6 separate regions of the Homo sapiens genome follow, and regions 2, 3, 4, 5 and 6 are each linked to region 1. Evidence: fine-mapped expression QTL. A gene starts in region 1. Each other region holds a variant in brackets. All regions are shown on one strand. Distances are between the middles of the regions. Region 1 holds the start of SLCO4C1 (solute carrier organic anion transporter family member 4C1). Region 2 overlaps SLCO4C1 (solute carrier organic anion transporter family member 4C1). Region 3 holds the start of SLCO6A1 (solute carrier organic anion transporter family member 6A1). Region 4 overlaps SLCO6A1 (solute carrier organic anion transporter family member 6A1). Region 5 overlaps SLCO6A1 (solute carrier organic anion transporter family member 6A1). Region 6 overlaps SLCO4C1 (solute carrier organic anion transporter family member 4C1).

What was found.
Region 2: its variant is fine-mapped to the expression of SLCO4C1 in whole blood (TOPMed, PIP 0.90).
Region 3: its variant is fine-mapped to the expression of SLCO4C1 in whole blood (INTERVAL, PIP above 0.99).
Region 4: its variant is fine-mapped to the expression of SLCO4C1 in whole blood (TOPMed, PIP above 0.99).
Region 5: its variant is fine-mapped to the expression of SLCO4C1 in whole blood (INTERVAL, PIP 0.93).
Region 6: its variant is fine-mapped to the expression of SLCO4C1 in monocytes (TOPMed, PIP above 0.99).

The regions. Positions count from the first base shown.
Region 1 is chr5:102,293,190-102,298,268 of GRCh38, forward strand. SLCO4C1 (solute carrier organic anion transporter family member 4C1) reads right to left here and starts at 3,095. Exons shown (of 13, transcript NM_180991.5): 1 at 2,719-3,095. The coding sequence starts at 3,073. RefSeq lists an enhancer at 2,861-3,060.
Region 2 is chr5:102,236,107-102,241,185 of GRCh38, forward strand. It overlaps SLCO4C1 (solute carrier organic anion transporter family member 4C1), which reads right to left. Exons shown (of 13, transcript NM_180991.5): 11 at 4,612-4,676; 12 at 3,145-3,282; 13 at 1-912. The coding sequence ends at 752. Among named protein-coding and RNA genes, the nearest start is that of SLCO4C1, 58 kb to the right of the region's middle. The variant C/T (reference allele first, on the strand shown) is at 2,458.
Region 3 is chr5:102,496,615-102,501,693 of GRCh38, forward strand. It overlaps SLCO6A1 (solute carrier organic anion transporter family member 6A1), which reads right to left and starts at 2,387. Exons shown (of 14, transcript NM_173488.5): 1 at 1,873-2,387. The coding sequence starts at 2,230. It overlaps LOC124901035 (a long non-coding RNA gene), which reads left to right and starts at 2,472. Exons shown (of 2, transcript XR_007058892.1): 1 at 2,472-4,212. RefSeq lists an enhancer at 1,774-2,274. The variant A/AAAC (reference allele first, on the strand shown) is at 2,672.
Region 4 is chr5:102,369,359-102,374,437 of GRCh38, forward strand. SLCO6A1 (solute carrier organic anion transporter family member 6A1) reads right to left here. Exons shown (of 14, transcript NM_173488.5): 13 at 3,979-4,136; 14 at 2,416-2,765. The coding sequence ends at 3,994. Among named protein-coding and RNA genes, the nearest start is that of SLCO4C1, 76 kb to the left of the region's middle. The variant C/A (reference allele first, on the strand shown) is at 2,926.
Region 5 is chr5:102,463,904-102,468,982 of GRCh38, forward strand. The region is part of intron 4 of SLCO6A1 (solute carrier organic anion transporter family member 6A1); the gene reads right to left. Among named protein-coding and RNA genes, the nearest start is that of SLCO6A1, 33 kb to the right of the region's middle. The variant C/T (reference allele first, on the strand shown) is at 2,837.
Region 6 is chr5:102,251,801-102,256,879 of GRCh38, forward strand. All of the region lies in intron 8 of SLCO4C1 (solute carrier organic anion transporter family member 4C1), which reads right to left. Among named protein-coding and RNA genes, the nearest start is that of SLCO4C1, 42 kb to the right of the region's middle. The variant TTA/T (reference allele first, on the strand shown) is at 2,153.

The sequences.
Region 1 (5,079 bases):
ACCTAAAGTATCTTAGGATGACATTTTTATACGTTATCTAATAATACAAAATTTTCCGCATCCAATAAAATCAACTTCCCTATCACTTGCCATACTGATTAAAAATTAGTTAATAGAAAGAATTGTCTTTATGGTAAAACTTCTCTTTGAAAAAAAAATTTGTAAACTCCTCAGGAAGGATAGCACATTAATCCAATGACTCTTAAAGTGAATTCTATGCTATACAAGTTCCAAGAACACTACTTAAAAAAACAAAAACAAAAAAATCAGGAAACGCTCCATACTACATCTCTCTGTTGTAAATGAATGACAATAGGAAGCACATTAGAAAATTAAGTACTTAGAGAATCCCTGTTTGTCTTTGAGAAATGCTGGGTTAAATAAACTCATTCGAGAAATTTTGTTTTTCTTTCCAATTAAATGTATATTTAAATATACCATGGAAATGATCTTAAGGATCATGTTTGAGAAACATGGCAATAAAGTTTTCAGGCATTCAAACTTAAACTGAAACGTAAACTAGTAATTTATTGGGTCACACTTTTTATTATTATACTTTTTTTTGAGACCTTGCCTCGCTCTGTCACCAGGCTGGAGTGCAGTGGCGCCATCTCGGCTCACTGCAACCTCCACCTCCCGGGTTCCAGCCATTCTCGTGCCTCAGCCTCCTGAATAGCTGGGACTACAGGCGTGTGCCACCGCACCCGGCTAATTTTTGTGGTGTTTTGTTTTGTTTTGAGACAGAGTTTCCCTCTGTTGCCTAGGCCGGAGTGCAATGACACGATCTCGGTCCACTTCAAACTCCGCCTCCTGGGTTCAAGTGTTTTTCCCACCTCAGCCCTCCAAGTAGCTGGGATTGCAGGCATGCGCCACAATGCCCAACTAGTTTTTGTATTTTTGGTAGAGACGGGGTTTCACCGTGTTGGCCAGGCTGGTCTCGAACTCCTGACCTCAGTTGATCTGCCTGCCTCAGCCTCCCAAAGTGCTGCAATTACAGGCGTGAGCCACGGCGCCCGGCCATAATTTTTTGTATTTTTAGTAGAGACGGGTTTCACCATGTTGGCCAGGCTGGTATCCAAGTTCTGACCTCAACTGATCCGCCCGCCTCGGCCTCCCAAAGTGCTGGGATTACAGGCGTGAGCCACCATGCCCAGCCTATTGGGTCACTATTATCTCAGATTAAGCTTCTTAAATTGGGGACCTCTGGGTAGATGCTGCTCCAGACTAAACCTGACAAATTTTCTAGGAGTGACAATTACATTTGATAACAATTTTAGGCAATATTTTATATTAAATATAAAATGTTATATTTTGGAATAATATAGAAATTTCAGAGGAATTTTAAGATAATACACAAGATAAGACATTTTTTACTTGTGTCCAACTTTTTTATCTTCGCATTCCTTTGACACTGAGATGCTTCACAATTACCAATTTTGTAAAACTATGATCAAGACATTAATGGAGGGGAACTTTGGTAGGGACAAGAAAAGTGGACAGGGAAATAATTCTTCAACACAAATCTACCTTCAGTAGAAGAGCTGCAGCGGACTTGCAATCAATAAATGGTTACTTAGCATCTAATGCGCAAAGCAAGGGGCCCTGGGTTCCTTGAAGAGGAAGAATAAGAACAAAAAGTATACTTAGGCTTTGACTTAGTTTTCTATTAACTTAAAAAATGAGCTGTTTCCAACCCTCTAAAATCTATATTTCTAAGGTTGTATTTCTTCCAATTAATCCTTGACTGATTATACAGAAAATATTCTCGGACTATGACTCAAGTGACCAAAAAATATCTACATTCCAATTCAGCTAAGCTTCGGCATGTCCTTCTTGACTCCTCTCCACCTCTTCTCCACCCTTCCTCAAAGTCAACTCAGGTTAACTTCCTATTTTCCTTCAACCTCTGTATTGAACACACCAGAAGCAGCTTTAACCTTCCCTGTGCCTTCTTTCAAGGGAGCTGTTCTCCCTCCAGGATATCACTCCTCCAAACTGAGCTTAGATTGCAAGCCCCTGAGGGTATAAATCTGAACTGAATCTGTAACTCCCAAGAGAACCTAAAAGAGATCCTAGAACAAAACAGATGCTGGATAACTAATGTAACACAATGAAGATTAAGGCTCAACAACGTCGGGAGCCTTTGCTAATTTACTCACTGGGCTCCTCTGGTGACCACATACTCTCAAACTAAATACACTCACAAAACATGAATGTCTGTATCTAATTTATACGATAGATTTTTCATAGCTTTCTTCCTTGTAAGGCATCCCACTCCCACCTGCAAACGTATTACTCCTTCCCCTGAGGCAATGAAACAAATGTAAAAGTAAAATACCTTTAAAGAGTGCCTAGGTAAATTTTTGTCTTTATAATGTAAAATAAACTCCCCAGGGTATACCTTTCCCAAAGGAAGGTTCTTGTAATCTTCCCTGTAAGTCTTGAATCCGCTAAACTGAGGTAAAACACAAAAGAGAAAAAGGCTTGTATTGCAAGTTTGAACTGTAGTGATAAAGGAGAAGCTGAACTTTGGAAGGCTGGCTGGGGGCCGGTAGGTTGACCTTGGTGAGAGCGCAAGCAAGTTCCAAACCCGGGGCCACCTTGCAGGGCGCGTCCACCGTCCCACGGACCCCGCGCACCTGCCCTCTCCCCCGGCTGGCTCGCCGTGCCCACCTCGCTCTCCACTGGCCCGAGCCTCAAGCGGGCGCTGGACTTTACCTTGCGTGACGGCCAAGAGGCAGTAGTGAAGCAGAAAGCCTCCAGGTGTGTTGCAGCGCTGGAGACATTGAGGATGGAAGTTCCTCCAGCCGTAAGACCCCTCCTCAAACTCGGACAGCGACAGTGACCGGAGCTTCTCTTCGGAGACATTGGGAGGGGCTGAAGGCAGAGATGGCTCTGGTGACTTCTGGGGCTCCTGGGGCTTCTGAAGCTCCTGTGGCTGAGAATTCTCTCTTTGGGGGTCAGAGGACAAGGCAGAGACTTCGATTTGGGAGGGCGACGCAGACAAGCGGCGCAGGATGTCTGGGCTGGAGGGGACAAAAGCCAAGTTCTCAATACCTTTGGCGCTCTTCATGTCTGGATGGGTTCTCCCGACTCCGGTGCTTCAGAGCAGCAGAGCCAGGTCCCTCTCTGGCTCCTCCCACAGGCAGGTGACAGCGCCCCCGTGCGGGAAGCTTCCCGCCTCCTGGCCCTCCAGCCTCCAGCGCACTCTCCGCCACCGCCTGAACCTTCCTACTCCAGCTCGCAGCTGTCTGGAGCGCAGAGCGCTGAGCGGGGGCGTTAGCGCCCCAGCCTGTGGCTTTGGCGCTCAGCTGTGCCTCACCCGTCGCCTCAAGGACCAACCGGAAGGCGCGGCGTGGGCGTGCCACCCGGCGGCGGCCGAGTAGAGGGGGCGAGAGTTCTCACCCCACAGCCTTCGACCGGAGTCCGCCTCCGCCCAAGCCCCTGCGGTTCTGACCTGAGCCTTCAGCCCGCAGCGCGCCTCCCTTGAGCCCAAGCACTGGGAACACACAGAGACTGTGGGAGTCTCTGGCCATAAGCTCCCCTTGGGTGCTGACATGAAACCTGTAAACAGTTGCATCAGGAGATTGTTCAGGAAACTATCTTGCGTTTTCTTCCTTTGCTGCTTACCAAAGCAGTCTAGGCTTGGACTCCAAGAATCAAGACGTCAGAGGTATACTTTGGTTCATGAGCATCTTGATAAGACTCTTGCCTGTCATCCTGTTACTGGTAGAAGGTGTCCAGGTTCTTGGCATCTTGAAGAAAGAATTGAAGAAAACGCACAAACAAAGCAAGGAAGGAATGAAGGGGTTTATTGAAAATGAAAGTACACTCCACAGTGTGGGAACGGGCGAGCATAGGGGCTCAAAGGCCCGGTTACAGAATTTTGGGGAGTTTAAATACCCCCTAGAGGATTCCATTGGTTACTTTGGGTATGCCCTATGTAAAGGGAGAAGATGAAGTAAAGTTACAAAGTCATTTATGGCCTACGCCCTATGGAGAGGATATTTCCTGTTACAGCTGAAGTGTGAATAGGCCTTATGTTTCCTGCCTCCAGACCCTATTTTCCTGCCTCAGTCCTCCTTAGAAAAAGAAATCCACCCCACCCCACCCCCATCACCACCAGGATGAACATCACAGCATAACCACTGCTTTGCTTTTCCTTCTCCGAAACTGAAGGACCAGAAATTGTCTCTCTGCTGTATATTGCATATGTAAGATATACAGTGATGACAATCATGTAAATAATTTCTACCGGGCCAGGCGCGGTGGCTCACGCCTGTAATCCTAGCACTTTGGGAGGCTGAGGCGGGTGGATTACCTGAGGTCAGGAGTTCAAGATTAGCCTGGCCAACATGGTGAAACACTGTCTTTACTAAAAATACAAAAATTAGCCAGGTGTGGTGGTGCAGGCCTGTAATCCCAGCTACTTGGGAGGCTGAGGCAGGAGAATCATTTGAACTCGGAAGGTGGAGGGTACAGTGAACCGAGATTGTGCCACTTCAATCCAGTCTGGGTGAAAGAGTGAAACTCTGTCTCTTAATAATAATAATAATAATAATAATACATGTCTAACTGTGGAATAAATAAGAAAAACACTTCGAAGAGCTTAACACCATTGTGTCATGGTAGGTACAATTTAGTCATTCATTCTTTCACTTAACACAGACACAAAAAATTCTTGTGTCCTAGGTGCCAAACATTGTTCTAAGTTCTGGGGGTACACAAGTGAACAAAGACTGGCAAATACCCCTACCCTTATGGTGCTTATGTTTTAATAGGAAACAGACAGTAATAATACATAGTACATGGCACATAATATGATAAATACTATTTTGTGAAACTTTTGTTTCAATTATATATGCTGTGTTTACTGGGTTGAGAGACAGATATAAAATATGTATCTTACTTTGGACAGAGGTACATTCTGTTACCTGTTTCCTCACAATCGAGAAAACTCTAGACTGGCCAGCCGGGCGCAGAGGTGCAGGCCTGTAATCCCAGTACTTTGGGAGGCCAAGGTGGGTGCCTTGAGTCCAGGAGTTTGAGACCAGCCTGGGCAACACGACAAAACCCTGT
Region 2 (5,079 bases), 57 kb before region 1:
CAGAATCATAAATGTGTTAAAAATTGTAATATCAACAAATTACCTCCTGGAATTCTTGAGTTAAAGTGAAAATATGTGTATACAATGCTGATGTTTCTGTATTCACTATATACTAAGACACAAGGATGATAACTAACATATTCTAATAGTTCAATAATTTGCTTGGAGAAAGGCCAGGCTAGTATACATAAATTTAAAAACAAATTACATGGTAAACCTGGTTTTAAATTCATAGGCTTTCAATAATAATTCCCGGAAATCATCACACAACTTTGATTAGTTTAAATTTTTATACCATAAATGTTCTAAGCTCAAAATATTGACAATGAAAATTAAAATTAAACAAGTTGTAATGGGGATAGAAACAACATTTTTTTTAAATGTAAATTTTTCTAATTGTGGGCCTTTTTTCTTGTTATTGCTTGAGGATTTCATACCTAGACAATGGGAATAGGAAATAAGTGTGTATGTGTGCGTGTGTGTGTGTGTGTGTGTGTTCGTGTGTGTGTGTGTGTGTGTGCTCGTGTGTGTGTGTGCTGTGTTTTGAGGCTTTACGTGGGCTTTGAAGGCACAGGTCTGTTTCTTGCATAAAACAAAAACTACATAAGTAAAAAAATACATTTGATTATAAAAACATCAATTTTGTAAATATGATTGTCCATATTGGATAGATAATCCTGCCATGGCAATGTGTGTTCTTAAAAATCGAGGTAAATTTTCCAGGTGTAAAACAGTCTTCTCTTTTCCCATTTCACCCTTCTTTTACTATTTTGTTGAGATCCTGTTCTGCTAAAACATTAGTCACAACTGCATTCTCTTTATGAAATGACACATCTGTGGCTGATGGAGGTGGTTTATACAAAAAGATTGCAAATCCATTGAAGAACATGGTGATAACTTTACAAGTAACACCTAAGTGAAAAAAAAAATTAATCATGTGCTTTTGTTTTTAATTATGATAAAAATTATCACTGAGAAAAATCTTCATGAATAGAACATTTTTAAAGAGAATAATTACATAACCATTATAGTTCTATGTTTAAAATTTTTGAAACATTAAGGGGAAAGAAAAAACATTTGTATACAATTCAAGTCACTAGTACTTATTTTCTTTCTAAGCTGTAATAGAGCACAATAATTAACTTATTCTTGGTTATGCTTGTGCATTCTTGTAAAATAAGTGTTGTATAGAACTAAATAGGAATTGGGCCACCATCTAGATTTGTTAACACAAGCCCATAATCCCAGTACTTTGGGAAGCTGAGAGAGGTGGATGTCTTGAGTCCAAGAGTTCGAGACCAGGCTGGGCACCATAGGAAACCCTGTCTCTACCAAAAAAAAAAAGTGCAAAATATATTCAGGTATGATGGATGGTACAGCCTGCAGTCCCAGCTACTTGGGATGCTGACGTGAGAGGATCGCTTCACCCCTAGAGGTGGAGGTTGCAGTGAGCTGAGATCACACCACTGCACTCCAGCCTGGGTGACAGACAGAAACCCCGTCTCAAAAATAAATAAATAAATTCGTTAACACAATATGATATCTATAAAAAATTGCAAGCAACCAAAAGTCAATAATGAGGGAAAGTAGTTTGTAACATTCTTGAACCTGAATAAATTGAAGAACATTCCCTTCCAGGACAGAAAATAATTCTAAAAATTAAAAAGGTTTTGGAGTTCTTAAAGCCTCTGTGGGAGGATATCACACTCAATACTTAACCAAATCTACTCTTCTTATCAGCTAAAAATAAACATTAAGATTCACTTCACAAACTTTGATTTATTTCCAAGTAAATCTGATTTTAAGTTCAGTTATATGAAGAGAAACTAGTTCCAACCACAGTATAAGCATTTAATAATTGCCAGCCTAATAAATTCAACGTGGTCTCACAGTATAGTTCTTGCAGTAGCTGGTTTCTTTTTGTTGATTATTAATATTTTGTTTAAAAACATGTATTTGAAAAACAGGAATGCTCATTCATCTAGGCATTACTAGACTATAGAATGATTAGTTACATAGGTACAACTTACAACTTTTTTTATTTGTTTCATTCTGAAAATTTTAAGGTTTTATATATTTTGTGGGGGGATTCCCATTCATCATTGACTAGGAAAATGAATGATTTGTTCTATCTATATCTTTGACCAAAAAGTACAAACAAAATGAATTAAATAAATTTTAAACATAAAAACATTGTATGTAGCCATGATTGTGGTAAAAATATATAATTTTAAAAATTGAATAAAAAATGGTTTTTAACAACAGGTAAAGTAATGGGATGATTAATTTTGCCTATACTTGTCAATACTTACTCCCCAAGTGCTATAAGAATTTATAGATTATTTCTTCAGCAAATATTCTATTACTCTATCTCTATCAACTCAGAAAGCATACTCTGGATTTACATGCATGTAAGAGTAATAATAGCCTATCTTGATCAACCTGTGTCAAAATAAT[C/T]ACAATGAAAATCACACATTATATTAGATACATATGTATACATACATTCAGGATTTCTCTAAGCTATTTTAGTTTCCTAGGTTATTATTCAAATTTTAAATTTTTAAATTTCAACTTTTATTTTACTAGTGTAAACTAGATACATTGTTTTACTTAATCTTAATCTTGCCTTAAATTTCATTCATTGCTTAACCAAGACATTACAAACTGCAAAAGGCAAAAAGAATTAAACATCACAGCTAACCTTCTAAACTATAAAAATGTTCCTTACAACGTGCCTTGGAGACAAAGGATACTTCCCTGCCTGAGCCATATGTGTTTGCAACACCTAGATACCTAGATGACAATCATTCCAGGGAGTTTCTCAGAATTCTCTTTTAGCTTTCGAGTATACTTTCCAAAAATGTTTGAGATAAGTTATTAAAAGAAAAGTATATACTGTATGATGTAATGAAAGCTAGAATTTTATTTTCTTGTATTTAGTACTGAGCCTTGCAAACTCCATCTGTTCAAAGCCTTTCATAACATGCTGTGATAAATGTTCTCTGCTTCAGGAAGACTACTGGATGGTTCAACAATGTGGACTGAACATTTCAAAATACCTGTGACCCTAAGTAACCAACAATGAGATTTTTTTTTTTTTACATCCTTAGTTTACTCTAAAATTATCAAGAAGTCACCACTTACTTATGGCTACTAGCATATGGGCCATCTTGATGTTATCATAAATCCAGCAAGCTCCTTTAATTCCACAATCATTTATATCCCAAAGAATACATGTGCTGTCTATTGTGAAACCAAATATAATTGGTCCAGGAATTGTCCCTAAAAGAATTATGGGTGAAATATACAACAGTAAAGATTACAGTTTAGAATTACAGATCTTTTTATACATGATCATACATATATTTTATAGAAATAAAAATAAGTATTCATCTGTCCACATGCAAATTAATTCATGTACAAGTCAAAGAAATATAAAGCAGATACAATATTCTAAAATAATTATATGTAATTACTATGTATTTCTAATCAATTCAAAAAAGTATTTCAATAGAAATATCCAATATATATTGGGCTAAAAGTTAATATTTTAATTCACCACTTTTCTAATATAATGAATAAATATGCCTTTGAAATTAGCTATTATACTTGTTAAAAATCAAAATAAATTATTCATGATGCACAAATAAATCTGCTGAACTATAGTATATGTTGTATCTATGTGGGTGTGCATGTGTATATAAACTAACATGGGCCTCTGTATGTATTAGTGTATGTATATACAAATATATAGTCTTATAATACCATATCTAGGAATATCACTATCTTATATACCCGCCACCATTTCCAAGAGGCCATGAGGTACTCAACTTCCATATAGTTAAGAAACTTCCAATTATTTGAGGTTGTAATTTTTAGACAAAGATTTCAGCTACATCCAGTCTGTTCTTTCATGACCTGTAGCATGATACAAGTCAGAGTACTAGACTCAGAGTTAGGAATCATTTTCCTACTTTCATTTCTATCACTAGTTGTGTAACTATGGGCAAAACCCTGCACTTCTCAGGGACTTAATTTACTCATCTGAAAAAATTGGCAAGTTGGACGAGGTGATCTCTAATGCCCCAACTTTTTGTTTTTGCTTTAATAAATAATCTTAATATTATGTTTACTATGTCTGTCTTTCTTGTAATTTGTCCTGTACCTGGAACTTTATAAAATTCTCTGGTACAAATTCTTTCTTCCAATAATTCTTAACTAGTCACAATATCCATACCACAGTTGCTGTTGAAACATTTTAACATCATTTTTAATTGCTAGTGTAACACAATAGTGTCACGAATAGAGACAAAAGCAGAGAGAAAAGAAATTATGTGTTGATGATCATATTTTATATTTGAAATAGACATGACACACCTTTTAAGATTTTATTAGCAACATAGTTGGAACAGGTAACCAGTCAGGTAGGTTAAAAGTATGCAATAAGTAAATAATCCTATATCTGAAACATTGGAAAATGGCTTCCTTCAACAAGAATGATGTAGCCTTCCACTATAATTTTTTTTGCCACAGGCCATAAATTAAAAAATAAATAACACTAATGAACCAAAATAGCCAACAGTTAGCAATGAATAAAGAAAAATGGCATACCTAATAATCGAAGGACCATAAATTGTATTCCCAAGGCTAGGGACCGTTGTCTGTGATTAACACACCTGGAAATATTAAATATATATGAGACCAAAAAAGGTGGTATAGTATATTCACTCTTTGAGCAAGTTCACATTTATAAGAGTTTAGCATTCCTATATTAAAGTAAATGTTGTAAACGCAAAATAATGCATTTGTAAGAGCTTATAAATGGTTTAATCTTCCTGGGATTATAAAAGAAGAAAAATGTTATCTGACCTAAAATATTGCAAATAACACCAAAGAGTCACTAGTCTTTATTAATTTTAATAAATGTAAAGAGAAAGGGTATTCATTAACAAGACATATTTTCCATAAAAGTCATCAATAAATTATGTATAGAAGGAGTGTACCTCAATATAATAGAGCCCAAATATAACAAATCCACAGCTAACATCATACTCAATGGTGAATACCTGAAAGCCTTTC
Region 3 (5,079 bases), 200 kb after region 1:
TATCCTTTCAGAATTATGTCTGGTATTTAAAGGCCTTCATAATCTAGGCATAATCTGTCTTTTCCTTTCTTTTAAAATTCATTCATGCATCGAATACATATTTACTGAGTGTCTTCTATACCTCAGTCACTAAGGAGACATGATGGATAATATAAATATAATTACCCCCTTATGGTGCCTAGATGAAACCATTATCCAGCCAAACTTGTCATTCACTATTGTGAAACAAGCCTTTCTAAAACAAAACACGATTCATTAACTCGCTTCCCTATTCAACAAATACTCTTTAATTTCATTCTGGCTTTCAAAACTGTACCTACTATAAAGGCATAGTTCAAATGCTTGTTCTTCTAAGAAACTTCTTTGATAATCTCAAGACAAACTCGATGACAATTTATTAGTTTTTCTAGTATGGGTCTTACAACATACAGCCTTTTGATTGCACTTATTTAGACCTAGCATCTTAGAGCAAAAAAGAGAACAGGTTTGTCAAATTCCAATGCCATCATTGAAAAGAGGCTAGTAAAGAATCTTGATGTAATAGGGGAGGTGAGAGCTGTGGTCAAGTAGAGAGGCATGCCAGGTCTAAAGTGTTCAAATTCACCTTCTTCAAAATATGTGGGCAAAAATAACAACCTCAAGTTTAGATTCTCTTGTATAAATTCATAGATGAGGAAAAAAGATCCAATAGAGAGTGGCTGAGCCAGAATGTCGCAAATTTGTGAGCAGGATCAGAAACCATTTAATGATCATAGACACCGTTTTCAACTTTATTTTAAACTCCAGGTGATTCAACCCAGAACTTCTCAGAGTTGGTGACCAAACAACGATAAATGACTCAACAATATCCTCTCTGCAGCTGGCTATCTGGAAGCCAGGCCCTCATCACCCACAATGTGTAGGATGGACTGTGCCAGTCAGGTTCTGGAGGAGGTGAGGCACCCAAGTTCGTGCCAGCCGGTTAACCTGTTTTTGAAACTACCTTTGCAAAAATTATAAATGAGGAAATTATGACAGTGAAACAGATTGGACCTAATCCACTCCTTCTTGCTTCTAACCTTTAAACTCCTTGTTCATTCCTGGGCTTAGGCCGAACTAACTTTGGGAAGGAATTCATTTCACAGTTTGACTCTGAAACAAAATTGATAATAGCTCTTTTCTGAAAAGATCCCCTTGTTGCCTGGGGACTAATCTGCCTTTGCAGGACTAACAAATTATCTACAAGATTAGAAATTAAGGTTAGGGGTCATGCAGCCTCTGGCGCCAAGAGTCTGAACCTCCGCAAATTGCTCCTGGGGAAAACATCATTATTGTAAAACCGAAGCTCGGTGCTTGAGATATTTTGCAGACCCTTCACTGGATGGTTGAGCTGACACCACCCAGACAAGTAATCTGGGTCAACTAGTTCTGCCATCCCACCCAGGAACAGAAGATGGCAAGAAAACCTGACTTCAACCACACTATGATTCCCTGACCAACCTGACCAATCAGCACTCCCCAGTTCCCGAGCCCCTGCCAGCCAAATTATCTTTAAAAACTCTGATCCCATCCCAGAATGCTGGAGAGACTGATTTGAGCAATAAAAAAACTCTGGTCTCCCGCACAGCCGGCTCTGCGTGCCTTACTCTTTCTCCATGGCAATTCCCCTTCCTTGATAAATCTTCTCTGTCTAGGCAGCGGGCAAGGTAAACCCACTGGGTGGCTAAACTTTGATCCGACAACGCCTTGAGAAGTCAGAAAGCAGCCTCAGGCTGGGCCACCCCAGGGCATGCTGGGCCACCCCAGGGCGTCCTCCGCCATACTCCCTCTCCCGCCTCCGCCAGTGCGGCCCCAGCTGCCCTCGCCACAACAAACCGCCTCCTTCAGGCTCACCTTGACATATGAGCAGGATGCAGTAGAAAATCATGAAGCAGCGAATGTTATTGCAACACTCACAGCAGGTGCTGACTAAGCAGCCCAAACCACAGGGCTGCTCCAAACTGTCATCCACTTCTCCCGGCTTCTTGGAAACTGAGGACTTGGCTTTTTTCCTTTTTCGGAAACCGCCGAACCTTATCAAGGCCTCTGGAAGTAGTCTCAGATACCGGTGTTTTTTCCCGGGCTTCGAGGACTTCGGGGTTCCCTTGGCCCTCCTGTCCTTAGCAGGCTGGGCCCGCGCGGCCTCCAGCGGCTCTACTCCCCTTGAGACTTCATCCTGGCTCCCAGAGTGCCGGGCGACGCCTACGAACATGGCTCACCCTGGGCGGCTCCTGGCGACGCGGCCCGAGTGCTCTCGGCTGCCCGTCCTGCCTGGGCCAACCCAAAGGCCAGCCTGGCGAGGGCGTCGGAGGACTCGGTGGCCACAAGGGGCTCTTGCCGCCCAAGCCTCCAGAGCGAACGTTTCTCCTAGGGCAGGAGGCAAACGTCCTCCCGGGGGTTGACGGTTGAGAACTTCCAAAGCTGTTTTCCTTCTTTTCTTCCACGTGCGGAAGGAAAAAAAAAAGCTAAAACTAGATTTTGATAACTGCTAACACAGACAAAGAGCACCAGAAGCATGGAAAAAAAAAAAAAGTGGAACTGTCCGTCCCCAGTTTCCCCAGACTTACTTTATTATGGTGGCTTTCCAACTGAAAAATCTCACTAGAAACAACCTGAAAATTGTTGAAGGACCAGGAGAGAGCAGAAGACATTA[A/AAAC]AACAACAACAACAACAACAACAACAAAAACAGTTTCACCACAGTAAAAGATTTGGACGCACAAAAATCAGAAATCAATGTCCGACTGAATGTCCTTAAGTGAAGTGTTTTACACATAGAAATTATTGCCCTACAAACTCTATCCCAACTCAAGAACAGAAAAGATTATCATTTTCCACCTTAAATGAGGGCACGAGAACCAGAGGATTATTTTTTCAGGTATAAAAACTTTATTGAAGAGAAAGAATGTAAGCGAAGAGTAGTAGGATATGAAACGTGGCTTTCTTTTTTTAATGAAAATGCAACTTCTTATTGGTTTTCTTTTCTTAGGCTGATATATAAGCTCTTTAGGCCATGTATATGTGGAGGGTGACTTTCCAGGAGAGATGGCACTATCTTCTCTCCTATGGATTAGACATTGTGTTGCCAAAAACAATTTAGCTCTTCAACAAGATTTTGTGCTGCTCCAATAGTGCTGGCCTGGTAGACCAGGGAAAGAAGAATTAAGAACCACTGACCTGAAGCCTGATTTCGACTCTACACTGCTTCATGATAATAAATGTAAAAAAAAAAAAAAATCCACAGGAATCCTAGGAGGTAGGAAAGACAGTGGGGAGTGGTGGGCTCTTATTCTTGTGCTTCAAAACCAGAATAGGTACTGCTTGGGTGCAGAGCGGAAAAGACAACTCCATTAAAAATGAATGGTACTGGGAATTTTACTTCTACCCAGAATGTAGAAAGCCAAATAAAATGTAACCCCCACTCCAATAATAACAACAACAACAAAGCTGGATAGTATGAAAAAATACTTTTTTTATCAGAGAGCTACATTTCTATAGCTATGGCTGCTGTAAAGAAACTAGGCAAATTGATTCTAAAGGACAATAAGCCCTTCAGAAAAAGGATGGGACACACAAACCATTTTACTTTTCAAAGAGCACAGAAAGAAGAAAAAGCAGTCATAAAGGAAGATAGAAACACTTGAAATTTTAATGAATTCTTAAAGGCCAAGGGAAGCTTAACAGTTTAGAAACCCTAGAAGCCTAAGAAATAAGGGGAGTCTATACCCGTTTACCAGATCTTTGTTTAAGGGAAAAGATTTGGTCGTGGTAGACTGTCCCTGAGAAAGAAGAAGGAATACTTTCCCTCCTACCTCCACTGACCCTTCTGCTATCCAAAGCAAAAGCAGTTTTGCCTCTGGGATTGAGGCAGGAAACTCTCATGCCCTCCAGTCTGTGACAAAGGTTATCTGTTACAGAAGAAAAAACCCACTGAAGGAGGAGCAGCAAACCATCCTGTCTATGGCCTACCTTAAGATTGACTGCCACCAGAGAGAGGGATAGAAATAAAACAGTTTGCCAAAAAGAGAGGAGCAGGAACTTCATTTCTTCCCAAGAACCCCACTGAAACAAGGCAAAGCCCGAACTTGAGGTTCAGGCATTCAGGGCATGTCCAAAATTGAGGCTGGACCAGGGACAACCTAGCTTCTGCCTCGATGAGGAGTTTTGCATGAGTGAAAAAACAGCACTCCACCAATATAGGTGAGTCAAGAGAGCAGAGGGAAACCCTACCTGTGGTGCAAGCATACAGGACCTGCTGAAAGCTAAGGGTGGAATGGAAACACTGACAAACATACCTTCAACATTCTTTGATCAGCATATTTTTATTACATAATGTAGGACACTGTCATCCAGCTACAAAAATTGTACTCTAAGTATTTAAGTAGAAATTGTGGATATTTGTTTACCTTGCTCATTTAACCTTAGAAAACATCACACTTAATTCATTTTGGCTACCTTTATGATAGTACCATGCATGATAGAATTTCATGGTATGGATTTACTATAATTTATTTAACCACTTTCTTTTATATTGATGGGTATTGGATTGTTTTTCAATTTTTGCTCTGACCATACTGAAATTAACATGGTTGTATGTATTTTCCTGAGACAGATCACTGATTTTAAAAATCTTTTTATAGATGATGTCGATCAGAGTTATAAAACTATCTCAATTCCAGAAATATTAAATGTGAAAAAAATTATCTTTGAATCTTAAAATGTATGCATATTAATTACATGTTTCCTAAAAGTTAGCAAGTAATTATAGTATAAAATTTCGATACAGGCAATGAAATATAGCTACCAACTAAAGCATTCCCTGATGAGTTCAGCAATCCAAGTGCTTAAGATATTCAAGAAACCAGCTTAAATTAAACAATGAATGTTTATGAGGTGCTCTTTTATATTCTCTATGTAATATCTATTTCCGCTAAATGCTCTAAACATGTAGGAAGAACTACTCACTAAAGTAACATATTGATGATAATTCATATAATCCTTTTAGCAAATGAGCCTATGAAGTAGATAAACCGCATGATGGTGCAAATTATAATAATGTAGCTTAAT
Region 4 (5,079 bases), 76 kb after region 1:
TTTTTAGTGAGGTTATTTGTTTCTTGCTTACAAATTTGTTTAAGTTTGTTATATATTCTGGATATTAGACTCTTGTCAGATGCATAGCTTGCAAATATTAAAATTTCAACACTATTGTCATTAGAGAAATGCAAATCAAAACCACAATGAGATACCATCTCATACCAGTAAGGATGGCAATTATAAAAAGGCCAAAAATAGTAGATGCTGACAAGGTTGTGAAGAAAAAGATATGCTTATACACTGCTGGTAGGAATGTAAATTAGTTCTGCCATTGTGGAAAGCAATGTGGCAATTTCCCAAAGAACTTCTAACAGAATTACCATTTAACCCAGTGATGTCATTATTGGGTATATATCCAAAGGAATATAATTCAACCTGCCATAACAACACATGGACAGAGATGTGCATTGCAGCCCTATTCACAATAACAAAGATATGAAATCAACCTGAATGCCCATCAATAGTAGACTGGATGAAGACAATGTGGTACATATACACCATAAAATACTACACAGCCATAAAAAGAATGAGATTATCTCCTTTGCAGCAACATGGATGGAGCTGGAGGCCATTATCCTAAGCTAACTAACACAGGAACAGAAAACCAAATACATGTTCTCACAAGTGGAAGCTAAATTATGAGAACACATGGACACAAAGAGGGGAGCAACAGACATCAGGGCCTACTTGAAGGTGGAGGGGGAGAGGAGGGTGAGGATGGAAAAACTACCTATTGGTTACTATGCTTATTACCTGGGTGACAAAATAATCTGTACAGCAAACTCTCATGACATACAATTTACCTATATTACAAACCTGCATATGTACCCCGAACTTAAAATAAAAGGTACATATATATATATAGAGAGAGAGAGAGAGAGACAGAGAGAGAGAGTAGAGTTTGTTGCTTCAGAGTATATATATATATATATATGTGTATATATATATATATACACACAAAGAGAAACATGTAATATATGTTGATTACATATATATATGTAATCAACAGGGAAGGACTATAATTAATGTTTATAGCTAGTAGAAACCTCCTATATCAAGAGTCAACAATAGATTAATAAATTCATCACCAGCACTTTCAATAGCAGATATTCAGATCCTCAGAAAGTAGTCTCACATTAGAGTTTGAAAACCCATATTGTGCTATATATGATACCCAAATAAAATATTATATTGTCTATATTATATATAGACAATGTTAAAAATATAAAGAGTGCTTTAAAAAATATTAAATTGAACACACCTTTACTTCTCTGTGTCTGCCAGACTGAAAGAACCAAATAAATATAAAAATGGGAGCAAACTCTTTATAGTGCTGAAAACGGAGAAATACGCCATTAATAAACCCCAAATTGACATTTTCCTAGCTACATATTGCATTTCTGGACTACATTTAACACTAGATTAACTGCTAGATGTTACAAGCAGTAAAATTTCAATCTGATATAAAAAAAGAATCCAAAAAGAAAAAGAGTAAGAACCTGAGATTTTTATAGCAATCATTTTAAGAACTCAGAACAAGTGCAACTTGAAGAGCACAAATAAATTATCATCAATTTTAAAATATGAGCATTTCCATATGCATTCATTTACAGTGTCCCTTTAGGCAAAATTAAGCACCAGGACTGAGTAGGCTTATGGAGAAAATATTGTTAAGGTTAAACCATTCAAAAATATTCAACTTTGTAACCAGAGCTCTAACAAAAACAATCAGAATCTTAACACACCTTAGCACAGTTAAACCTCCACTAGCATTTTTACCCACCACCATAGTCAGTCCTTTGTAGTATTAAATGCTGGGGCTCACCTTCCTCCTTTAAAATGTAGGTCCTTGAGGATATGAACTCCAAAAAGAGGCCAGTTTCATCAAAGTTAGAATTCCAATATTTAGAAGTATCTTTGCAGCTTCTTCACCTGCACTTACAGTATCCTTAGGTACATTAATACTCTCAAAAGTATAATGAACCTTGATGGCATTAACTCATTCAAAATTGACTCCAAAGGAAGGCACTTCTGTGGGATTTTTAGCATTTTTTAAGATTTAATTTATTGCTAAGATCTTCTCTATAATAGTGAAAAACTTCCCCTGATTACTTAAAGAGGTATTAAATTGGAATTAACCAATAGAACTTCTGAGTTATATTTACATTACTTCCCTGTTTATCAATCCTCCATGAATTAGTTTGTGATACAGAAACACGTACTCTGTAATAGCAAAAATCTATATTTAAATTTAAAGTTTCAACAGTACTTCCCAATCCATAATTTTTATTATACCTTCACTGATTTATTTTCTGAAAAAAAAGAAAGCAAGAGAAACATAAACAGGTAATATGTATCTATACACACACACACACACACACAAACACCCCACAAACACACTGTACAAGCATGTTCAAAGTGGCTTTGAATGTTATTATTTTACTTTATTTCCTAGTTGTATAATTTTTAATATTTCTAGACAGCAGAATATTAAGAAGAAATGTAAATAATCTAAAATTATTAAACTTTAATTCTCCCAGTAAATCCTAAAAATTCTACATACATTAAAAACATTATCAGAAATGTTTCACAATAGGACACTTTATTATGAAAATGCAGATCACCATAAATATATTTTTGCTACTTATGTAAACATAATGTGTGATTTTCCTCTTCTGAAAGTTGGGCACAGAAACAAATCTTGGAGAATCTGTAAAAGAGAAACTCGTTTTCACACTCTGATCCTCAAATGATCTGCAATCCTGCTGGTTCAAACAGAGAAGAGTCAAGCAATCAAGTAGAGTTTTACATGAAGACTAGTTTATAGGTTTTTAAAATGCATGTTGAAATAAAATATACAACAGGAAATAAAAATGTGTAGTAAGATATGAATATTCCCTGCTTCACATTTTCTTCTGCTAG[C/A]CACGACCATGAATAGGGCAATGTCTACCCATCCACATAGGGTCATTGACTAATGTTAATAACAGAGGAGAAATTTTGTCAGCTATTATCACTTCTCCCAAGAAAACAAAGAAACATTGTAGAGAACCTTGTTCCACAACAATCTGATTTTTATACAATATTTGGAAAATCTAATTTCGATTGATGTACAATAATGTATAAAAAATTATAACAAAATCTCTATACAAATGCATTTTAGCTTAAAAAATCTATAAATAGTTGACACATTTTCTACATTTAAATATTTCTTCACATTAAATAATTACGATTAATTATAAAATGAAGTGTAAAAGCAAGCAGAAAAGTGGGTTTCAACTCAGATTATCAGCTAGTCTTTATCAATAAAATCCAAGTGAAGGTAAAAAAAAAAAGGAAAAAGGTAACAAAAAACAGGTAGAAGTATATGAGTATATTGAATTTTATGTTTACTAAGATTAACGAAACATCAAAATATTTATTATAAACTGGTCAATTAACCAAAGAAATTTTCTGAGGAAACCTCTGTATGTCAAATCATAGATAAATAAAATGTTAATTTTTAAAAGGTTTAAAATAGTCCTTTTTGGAAAATAAATATAACTTTAATTTCAACTTTAATTATATGAACTTAAGTGGCAAATATACTTTTATTTAGAAAAATGGAGAAATAAATATCTACTGCCCAAATCAAAAGTACTAAGAATAAGCTAAAAAGGGAACCTAATTAATTCCAAATAGCAAAGGCCAACAACTAATGGGCTATCACGTCAGTTAAAATTAACCTAGGTGTATTTTCCTATTTTCACTCAATCTCTTTCAATCAAAGTATTATCTTTCATTGAAAGTATTAAATGTGTATTTTATATTTTTAAAAATTTTAAACACAGACTATATTATTATATTTGCACTCAAAATATAATAAAATATATAGAATTATATGAAGCACATTTGTTAAACATGTAATTACATTATTATTACTTTAAATTTTATTAATATTAATATTTCATTGATAGATTGACAATGTGTAATTCTTACACAATGATGATCCAGTTACAAGTCAGTTTCTTCTTTTTTCTTAACTTTTGGATTCTTCACAGTTACATCTGGGAAGTCAGTGTTCTCATTTAGACGACGTTTGTATATGAAAAATGCAATAGTAGTGAAGATGATAGTGCATAGTTTGCAAAGAAAACCTAAATTTAAAAAATGCAATGATCAGATATGTCCATGTATTTAGAACAAAAATGTAGGCAAAAATGCTATTTACCAAAGAAAGGTAAGCATATTTCACCTATAAAGGTATAAATTTCCCAATTTTAGAATGCAATTAATGCCATAAAATTATATTAAGTTACTTAAAGGAGATTTTTAAATGTTTATAATATGTTTTAGATTTCTTAGACATATTACCCCCTTCCCAAGTGCAAGGTGTGCTATTACCTCATAGACTGTGTTAATTCTGAAACATGAAATATAAATTCTGACTTTCAAAACTTAGCTATCAATAGGAACCAGAGCTAAGTCATTTCATGCAGCTTTGCTCTTTTTGAAATATTCATCATTTTTCAAATAAAACAAATATTACAGAAAAGTTCATTAATTTTGCAGGTTTTTTCATTTTCATGTTTCAAGCTGCAGAAAGTTAATACATTACAACATTACAAGCATTATACAAATGTACTTGAATATTGGATGCAATATTTAATTAATTCTTTTTCAATTTTTTTAAATTAATTCTTTTTTTTTTTTCTTTTGAGACAGGGTCTCACTCTGTCACCCAGGCTGGAGTGCAGTGGCACGATCTTGGCTTACTGCAGCCTTGACCTTCCCGGCTCAAGCGATCCTCCCACTTCAGCATGTGCCACCACACCTGTCTAATTTTTATAGTTTTTGTAGAGACGGGGTTTTGCCATGTTGCTCTCTCAAACTTGTGAGCTCAGGCGATCTCCTTGCCTTCAAATCCCAAAGTACTGGGATTACAGACAGGAGCCACCACCATGCTTGGCCTATTTTTCTTTTTCTTGAAACAGGACCTCCCTTTATTGCTCAGGCAGGGGTACCCCTAACATAGCTTACTGCAACCTGAACTGCTGGGCTCAAGTGATTCTCTGGCCTCAGCCTCCTGAGTAGCTGGGA
Region 5 (5,079 bases), 170 kb after region 1:
AAAAAAAACAGGAACAAAATAATGGCATTTGCAGCAACCTGGATGGAACTGCGCATGTTCTCACTCATTAGTGGGAGCTAAGCTATGAGCATGTAAAGGCATAAGAAGAAATGTAATGGACTTTGGGGACTTGCAGGGAAGGGTAGGATGGGGGGTGAGGGATAAAAGACTACACATTGCGTACAGTGTACACTTCTCAGGTGGTGGGTGCACCAAAATCTCAGAAATAACCACTAAAGAACTTATTCAGGTAACAAAAAAAAACACCTGTTCCCCAAAAACTATCGAAATAAAAAAACAGAACTTCTTACGCAAGAAAGAACATTCAAAGTTTACGGAAAGAAAAATATTGACATATTTGATGATAAAAAACTTTTAAAGTTTCTATAATATACCATATACAAAGTTTAAGGACAGATTGGGAGAAATTATTTGTCATAGGTCTAGCAAACAATTAATATCCATAATAAGTGAAGAATTTTTATAAATCTATAAGAAATAATGAACCAATATAAAAATAAGACAGGAAATAAGAAGCAAATTCAAAAAAATACAGAAGGTTAATATACATACTGAGTCCTAATAATACATTCTCTTTGAGTAATTTAATAAAAGGGACTGTTTAAGTGACATAAGGAAAGTTTAAAGAAATCTGTATGGGAAGAGATGGTATCCTGGGTCTTGCAACAGAAGAGAGCCATTACCACCTGAAAAGGTGCCTGAAGAGGCAAGAGGAGACAGAAGTTAAGTGAACTCTACAGGTGGTTGTATCAGAGGGTCATAAGACAAATGTAGCCTTTATTAAAGAGACACCACCAAGCCATTGAGATTCATCAGGAAAGGAAAGGAAAGAATAAATATCCAGATTTAAGTTTCCTGATGCTCTCAGATCTCTTGCCAGTGCTCTTCACAAGCCAAGCCTAAAACTAAGCTAGATGGTAAAGGAGACCATTGATGTTGTCTATAATAGGTCAACCGCTTTAGGTACAGAGCAGAGTGGAGAAAAGTAGGGAGTGGAACTATAGTAGCAAACTGATGATATCCAACACAATCCATCACTTTTGTACCTCAGAATCTGCTAGTGCCCTTTGCTGGAAAAAAAAAATCTTGGGTGAGAAAATTCTTGAGATAACTACACCAAATCCTGTTAGCTATTATACAATTATTGGGTTATAATAATTCAAATATATTTGCAACTGAAAACTAAAACACTGTTGTAGAAGATGTTGTTAGTGTCCCATTTGTATTATGTCAGCTAGACATTCATCACTCCCATATATAACAAATGATTAACTTTGAATAGCAGGAACTTTATGCTTGGCCCAGTTCTCAGAGAGCAGGTCAGAAATACCTAGGGCTTAATAATAACCCCAGGAGCATCGCTTGACCAACAATTTCTAGGAGTTAGTGGATATATATATATATATATCTGGGATAACTCATATCTTACACTGTCCGCCAGAGTTCTCCAGTGGGATTGAGTCCTAGTTGCCCCAAGCAGTAAATTGCTCAATATAATGAACACTTTATTGTCTTCTTTAACTTCCCATGCTTATTTCCCCACTACCCTATCATGCTTCCTAGTATCATTTCTCAAATTAATAGTGTGCATTCATGTATTTATCTCAAATTCTTTGTCTCAAGTACCTTGAGAGAAACGCATTATGTCTAAAACAGTTACCATTACCAGGGATCATCATATAACCTAGAAGAATAAAAATTAGAAGAAAACTAACACAAAACCTAGTTGCTACTGTCCCTGCATCATTAGTAGTGACAAGGTCTGAGTTTACCATCACATCTTCCTTCATTCACCATCTATCATATGAATACCTTACCCTCAGTTAGCACCTTGGTTGGAAAGAATACTTCACCTGGTGAGGTGACCCAAACTATCATTCCTATAAGATCTGAGCCTTAGTGGTATTTTCTTTAATGAGTTGAGGCAGTTATTCATTAAAGAGAACTACTGGACAATGTGAATACTAAGAATCAAGTAAATCCCCTGGATTTCAAACAAAGTTGTGCCTGTCTCTACTATACAGCAGAAACCCATTCCTCCCCCACCAGAAACTCAGAATATTCACATTATTTAGTATTGGGCTTCTCTTTTTCCTTTTTAACTTTTATTTTAAGTTCATGGGTATAAGCGCAGGATGTGGAGGTTTGTTAAATAAGTAAATGTGTGTCAGGGGTTTGTTTTACAGATTATTTCATCAACCAGGTATTAAGCCTAGTATTAATTAGATGCTTTTTCTGATCCTTTTCCTCCCCCCACCCTCTGCCCTCCAGTAGGCCACAGCTATTTTTCCTATCTATGTATCTATGTGTTCTCATCATTTAGCTCCCATTTATAAGAGAAAATATACGGTATTTGGTTTTCTATTCCTGCATTAGTTTACTAAGGATAATGGCCTCCGGCTCCATTCATATCCCTCCAAAGGACATGATCTTGTTCCTTTTTATGGCTGCATAGTATTCCCTGGTGTATATTTACCACATTTTCTTTGTCCAGTCTATCATTGATGGGCATTTAGATCAATTCCATGTCTTTGCTATTGTGAATAATGCTGCAATGATCATATGTGTGCATGTGTCTTTATAACTGGATGATGTTTATCTTTGGTATATACCCAGTAATAGGATTGCTAGGCTGAATGGTATTTCAGTCTCTAGGTCTTTGAGGAATTACCGCACTGTCTTCCACAATGGTTGAACTAATTTATACTCCCACCAAGAGTGTAAAAGAGTTCCTTTTCTCCACAGCCTCACCAGCTTCTGTAATTTTTTGACTTCTTAATAGCCATTGTGACTTATGTGAAATAGTACCTCATTG[C/T]GGTTTTGATTTGCATTTCTCTAATGATTAGTGATGTTGAGACTTTTTTCATATGATTGTGGACCACATGTATGTCTTCTTTTGAGAAGTGTCTGTTCATGTCCTTTGCCTACTTTTTAATGGAGTTGTTTGTTTTTATTCTTGTAAATTTATATTCCTTATAGATGCTGGATATTAGACCTTAGTCAGATGCATGTTTGTTAAAATTTTCTCCCATTCTGTAGGTTGTCTGTTTACTCTGTTGATAGTTTCTTTGGCTGTGCAGAAGCTCTTTAGTTTAATCAGATCTCAATCGTCAATTTTTGTTTTTGTTGCAATTGTTTTGGTGTCTTCATCATGAAATCTTTGCCCATGCCTATTCCTGAATGGTACAGCCTAGGTTTTCTTCTAGAGTTTTTGTAGCTTTGGGTTTTACATTTAAGTCTTTAATCCATCTTGAGTTGATTTTTGTATATTGTGATTTTTACATATGATGTATATGAAGTTCTGATTTCTTTGTAAACCTCGTCTTTACCAAAAATACAAAAACATTATCCTGGTATAAGGATGCATGCCTGTAGTCCTAGCTACTCCAGAGGTGGGAGGATCACCTGAGTCCAGGAATTGAGGCTTTAGTAAGCTGTGATTATACCACTGCACTAGAGCCTGGGTGACAGAGTGAGAATCTCTTTAAAAAAAAAAATAACAAAACTGGTGGCAGGCAAGAGATCTTGTGCAGGGGACCTCCCATTTATAAAACCATCAAATATCATGAGACTTATTCACTACATACGAGTACAGTATGAGGGAAACTGCCCCCACGATTCATTTATTTCCACTTGGCCCTGCCCTTATCATGTGGGGGTTATTACAATTGAAGGTGAGATTTGTGTAGGGACACAGCCAAACCGTATCAGTGGCATTGAATGTTCTTTTGCATTTGTGTGGTATCAGTTGTAATATCTCCCATTTCATTTCTAATTGAGCTTGTTTGAATCACCTTTCTTTCTTTCCTGGTTAATCTCACTAATGGTCTATATATTTTGTTTATCTTTTCAAAGAACCAGTGTTGTGTTTCATTTATCTTTTGTATTTTTGGTTTCAATTTCATTTAGTTCTGCTCTGATCTTTGTTATTTCTTTCCTTCTGCTGGTTTTGTGTTTGGTTCATTCTTGTTTCTCCAGTTCCTTGAGGTGTGACCTTAGATGGTCTAATCATGCTCTTTCAGACTTCTTGATGTAGGCATTTAATGCTATAAACTGTCCTTTTAGCATTGCTTTTGCTGTATCCTAGGGGTTTTGATAGGTTTGTGTCACTATCATCGTTCAGTTCAAAGAAATGCTTAATTTCCATACTGATTTCATTATTGATCCAATAATAATTCAGGAGCAGGTTGTTTAATTTCCATGTATTTGCATGGTTTTGAGGTTTCCTTTTGGAGTAGATTTCCAATTTTATTCCACTGTGGTCTGAGAGGATACTTGATATGCTTTCCATTGTCTTAAATTTATCGAGACATATTTTGTGGCCTATCATACAGTCTATCTTGGAGAATGTTCCATGTGCTGAGGAAAAGAATATATCCTGCAGTTTTGGGGTAGAATGTTCTGTAAATATCTGTTAAGTCCATTTGTTCTAGGGTATATTTTAAGTCCATTGTTTCTTTGTTGACTTTCTGTCTTGATGACCTATCTAGTGCTGTCAGTGGAGTACTGAAGTCCCCACTATTATTGTGTTGTCATCTATCTCATTTCTTACATAGAGTAGTAATTATTTTAAAAATTTAGGAGCTCCAGCATTAAGTACATATATATTTAGGATTGTGACATTTTCCTGTTGAACTAGACTTTTTATCATTTTATAATATCCCTCTTTGTCTTTTTTAACTGTTGTTACTTTAAAGTCTGTTTTGTCTGATATAAGAATAGCTACTCCTGCTCACTTTTAGTTACCATTTGCATGGAATATCTTCTTCTACCCTTTTACTTTAAGTTTGTGTGAGTCCTTATGTATTACGTGAGTCTCTTGAAGACAGCAGATACTTCGTTTTCTTCTAGGGTTTTTATGGTTTTAGGTCTTACATTTAAGTCTTTAATCCATCTTGAGTTAATTTTTGTATACGGTGTAAGGAAAGGATCCAGTTTCAGCTTTCTACATATTGCTAACCAGTTTTCCCAGCACCATTTATTAAATAGGGAATCCTTTCCCCGTTGCTTGTTTTTGTCAGGTTTGTCAAAGATCAGATGGTTGTAGATGTGTAGTGT
Region 6 (5,079 bases), 41 kb before region 1:
CATATAGTGTATGGAATGAGAAGGGTACTGAAGTCTTGGGAGTCCACTTATTTAATAAAGACACAATGGACACCAATTATGTGCTAGACTACTCAAGGTGGTAGAATTATATTTAAAAGAAAGAAGGAGCTAGAGTTAGAACTAGAAATGACAGATTGAGGGAGAGAGAGAAATGGATAGAAGGAACGGAATGAGGGAGTGAAGGAGAAAAGGAGAAAGAGGGAGGGAGAGGGAAGAAGGAAGGGAGAAAAGCGAGAAGGAAGGGAAACGGGGAAAGAAGGAAGGGAAGAAGGGAGGAAGGGAAGGGAAAGAGATAAGGAAAGGGAAAGAAGGAAAAGGAAGGGAAGAAGGGAGGGAGGAGGAGAAGCAAACCTCTGCCACCATGAAGCTAACTTCCTTGCATCAGGGGTCAAACACAGTAAATGAGTGATTTCTGTAAGTATTAGAAGATAACCGACACTGTGTTGGAAAATGATGACATACAAAGTAGGCGGAGAACAAGAAAGTCATGAAGAAAACAAATTAAAGAGAAAAAAATGACTAAATCAGTAGGGAGTCTGAAGGAAAGAGTGATCAAGATAGTAATCTGCCACTCTGCCTGCAGTCTCATCTTATTCAAATCTATTCCACAGATGCTGCCAGATTTATCTTTATCAAGTATGATGATAATATCAAGGGTTGATCACATTCACAAAAGCCATCACCAGAGTGTCCGCTCACAGAGCTCATAACATAGATGCAGAAATAAGACAACCAGAGAAAAACCATCCCTGCAACTCTAGAAATAGCCTTTACACAGCAATTTTTAAAGTTCCCAATATATAATTCTCATGTTATTGATAAATAATTACTGAGATCATACAAAGTATAAGACAGCATGATGCAAATTATAGTATTAACAAAGAAATATAGCTTATATTCCTTAATATCAAGGGGTGGTCACATTAGTCTACATATTTTACAAAGGTTTACTTCTTGAGGTAACTAGAAAGCTATTAGTAGAAAAACGGCAGATGCTTGTGAAGTTTATTAAATTTTCTTAGTGTATACATATTTAAAAATATTAAAATATCCTATTTTGAAATGTTTAATAGATTTAAAATATAATAAAATAAATGTGCATATATAAACATCTTTATGTTTGCCACAAGTAGAATTCAAACATTAATTTCTTAAATACAAAGTATTCTATAATTATGCCTCTATAACAGGCTAAAATTTCCCTAAAACTATTGCAAAATATTGATATGCCTCTTTAAGATGCTATTTCATATAATCAATAAAATTCTAGCTAAAGATCAGATACAGAAAAAAATACTGTGTGTATACACTATGGTATTTCTATATTCTATGAGGTTTTAAGTAAAACATGAATCATCATTACCACCACTGATCACCAAAATAAGACTCAAAGTTCCTATAGATTGTCAAGGCAACAAAAGAGCAGTGGGGAACAGTGGGAAAATAAACAGTATTCATGCAATCGAATTTAGTATTGTGCCCAATTAAAGATTTAATAATAAATTACTTTAAAATATTATTGAAAAATATCCTGACCATTATCTCAAGCAAATTAACACAGGCACAGAAAACCAAATACCACATGCTCTCACTTAAAAGTGGGAGCTAATCACTGAGTACTTATGGAATAAAGATGGCAACAATAGACACTGCAGATACAAGAGGGAGAAGAGAAGAAGTGGGGCAAGTGTTGAAAAACTATTAGCCAGGCACAGTGGCTCGCACCTGTAATCCCAGCACTTTGGGAGGCCGAGGCGGGTGGATCACCTGAGGTCAGGAGTTCAAGATCAGCCTGGTCAACATGGTGAAACCCTGTCTCTACTAAAAATACAAAATTTAGCTGCGTGTGATGGCACGCCTATAATCCCAGCTACTCGGGAGGCTGAGGCAGGAGAATTGCTTGAACCCAGGAGGCAGAGGTTGCAGTGAGCTGAGATCGTGCCACTACACTCCAGCCTGGGCGACCAAAGGAGACTCTATCTCAAAAAAAAAAAAAGAAAAGAAAAACTATTCAGTACTATGCTTGGTACCTGGGTAACAGAATCAATCATACCCCAAACCTCAGCATCATATAATATACCCAGGTAACAAATCTGCACATGTACCCCCTGAATCTAAAAGTTGAAATTAT[TTA/T]TATATATATATATCCCCTGATCTTACATTTTTTGGAAATGCTGTTATATTAAACAGGGACTTTCAAAGAACATATCAATGAACCTAATTCATTAATTCATGGATGCAAAATCTCTTTTTACCCATCTGTGCTTACCATGGCAAAAGTCAAAGATTCTTTGCACCCCTCTACTAGAAACCCTACATCCTCAGAACCTCTTCTGTCTCTCACTCCCTGAAAAGGTATTTCTTGAGCTTCTTAGTCTGTTCTTTCCATAGACAGGCTTACCTAGCTTTACTTTACTTTGTTTTATTGTACTTTGCAAATCTTGTGTTTTTTACAAACTGAAGGTTAGTGGCAACCTAGTGATAGTGATAGTATTCAGTAAGTCTATCAAGTGCCATTTTTCCCAGAGTACACGATCAGTTTATGTCTATTTCATATTTTGGTAACCTTGCAAAATTTCAAACTTTTTCATTATCATTTCTGTTATGGTGATCAGTGATTTTTGATGTACTATAATAATTGTTTCAGGACACCATGAACCATGCCCCTTTAAGAAGTAAAATTTAATCAATGAATGATGTGTGTGTTCTGACTGCTCATTATTGTCTTATTTTAAGAAGCTGCCACAACTACCCCAACCTTTGGCAACCACCACCCTGGTCAGTCAGCAGCCATCAACACTGAGGCAAGACTCTCTACCAGCAAAAAAATTACAACTTGCTGAAGGCTCAGATGATTGTCAGCATGTTTCAGCAATAAATAATTTTTAAATTAAGGTATATACATTGTACATTGCTTTTCTAGAAATAAGGTTATTGTATATGTAATAGACTACAGTATAGGGTAAATATAACCTTTATATGCACTGGAAAACCAAAATATCCACTTGAGTTGCTTATTGCAATATATGCTTTATTTTGGTGGTCTGGAAGCAAACCCACAATATCCTCAACATATGCCTGTACCTTTTCTTTTATACGTGTTTCTTAGATGAGACTAGTTTGACTGACCTGTTTGTAATATACACATTTTAATACTCAGTGTATAGAAGCTAAAACTAAGAATTTGGGGCCATGAGAAAAAAATGATCTGAAAATGTCACACCTACTTTGTGACATTAAATTCTGTTCCTATTTCTATTTATATCTATATACACACACATACATAAATATGAGTAAAAACATATACGTTTAGTGATATTTATGTGTATTCACTTTCAGTTTTTCTCATCACTAAGAAACATGTATGTGTATTAAACACTATATCCCAGATCTTAATATATCTTAATGGCCAACCCCTACGTGAACCTCAGAATTACCCCATCACACATGCCTTCCTTTCTGATTACACACCTGGACAGCACACCTGGTAGTAACTATTATTTAAGGTAGACAATATTAAATGGATTCACATGTACTTTGTTACTCAAGGTGATAAACTATGTGTTAAACTATCCAGAACTTCCTTTTTTTTCTAAAAGGAACATACAAAAAATGTTTACTGGGATAAGTTTGGGTGAAGTTTATAGGGGTGAAAGTCAGGTCTACACAACTTAACCTCTACCTACCTTTCAACATTCCAAAATATATTTCTACTATTTCTAGACACATAATCTAAGTTCCATTCAACCTGGTCTCTGAAACTAGCCTTCACATTTTATAGCATTTATAACCTTGGTTTAGCATATTCCCTCTCCCTTTCTCTCTTCTCAAATCTTTATTTCTCAAAACTCTTTGTATCCTTGAAGGATTTTTAAACCCCATTTCACTATTATGCTGTGAAGCCCTTCTGGATTCTAATCAAATAAAATTGAAAAGCTCACCTTCTTTTCAATTCCATAGCAATTTTTTTTAATCTCCCATTACCTAATTGACTATTTGTTCACTGTTTTCTTTTGCAATCTCTCCTTTAGAACAGGTATTTTGCCAAGAAGATCTGCCAGAGGAAGCATTCAACAAATGTTGAACAAATGTAATGGAGCTTGGCCGGGCGCGGTGGCTCACACCTGTAATCCCAGCACTTTGGGTGGCCGAGCCAGGCAGATCACTTGAGGTCAGAAGTTTGAGACCAACCTGGCCAACAGGGCGAAACCCCACGTCTACTAAAAATACAAAAATTAGCTGGTCATGGTGGCATGCGCCTGTAGTCCCAGCTACTCCAGAGGCTGAGACAAGAATCATTTGAATTCAGGAGGCAGATGTTGCCGTGAGCCAAGACTGTGCCACTGCACTCCAGCCTGGGTGACAGAGCAAGACTCTCTGTCTAAAAAAAACAAAAAAAGAAAAAAATGTGATGGAGCTTAACTAAACACTGCTTTAGAACACTCAGCATTAATGTAAAAGAATCACAGATATATTAGCAGCAACTACAAATCATGATGATTGTCATTGGCAAACTTTTCTGAGCAAAGTAGATTATATTTATATCATCTATATGTCATATTATACAAAATTATGGAGTCCTTGACCTAACGTACCACTTTCCTTGACAGCCTCAAACACATGTAATGAAACAATTAAAGCAGCACTGTGAGGTATAAAATGCACTGCTGTGCAACACCCTCCTGCCTGACCACCTACTTATGGCTTAAAATTTCAAAGCAAAACAAAAAAGGAAAACAAAGAAATATAAATGGTTGAATCAGTTATAGCTAGAAACATGTCTACAGGTGAGAACAAGTTATTTATTTATTTACAATAAACATAAACTTCTAAGTAGATACAATAATGGTAAGTATTAGCAAGGACTAGCTTTATTCTAATTTCTCTTCTTGTCTGTTTGCAACCAACCTAATAAGATAATTTTTATCATAATTATGGAGTTATTTCCATTTCTAAAAACTTAAATCAATAAAAGCATATAATGTGAAATTCTCCCTAGGATGTGAATCGCTTAGAGGCAAAAATCCTACAGTATTAATCTTTGTATCACTGAGGAAG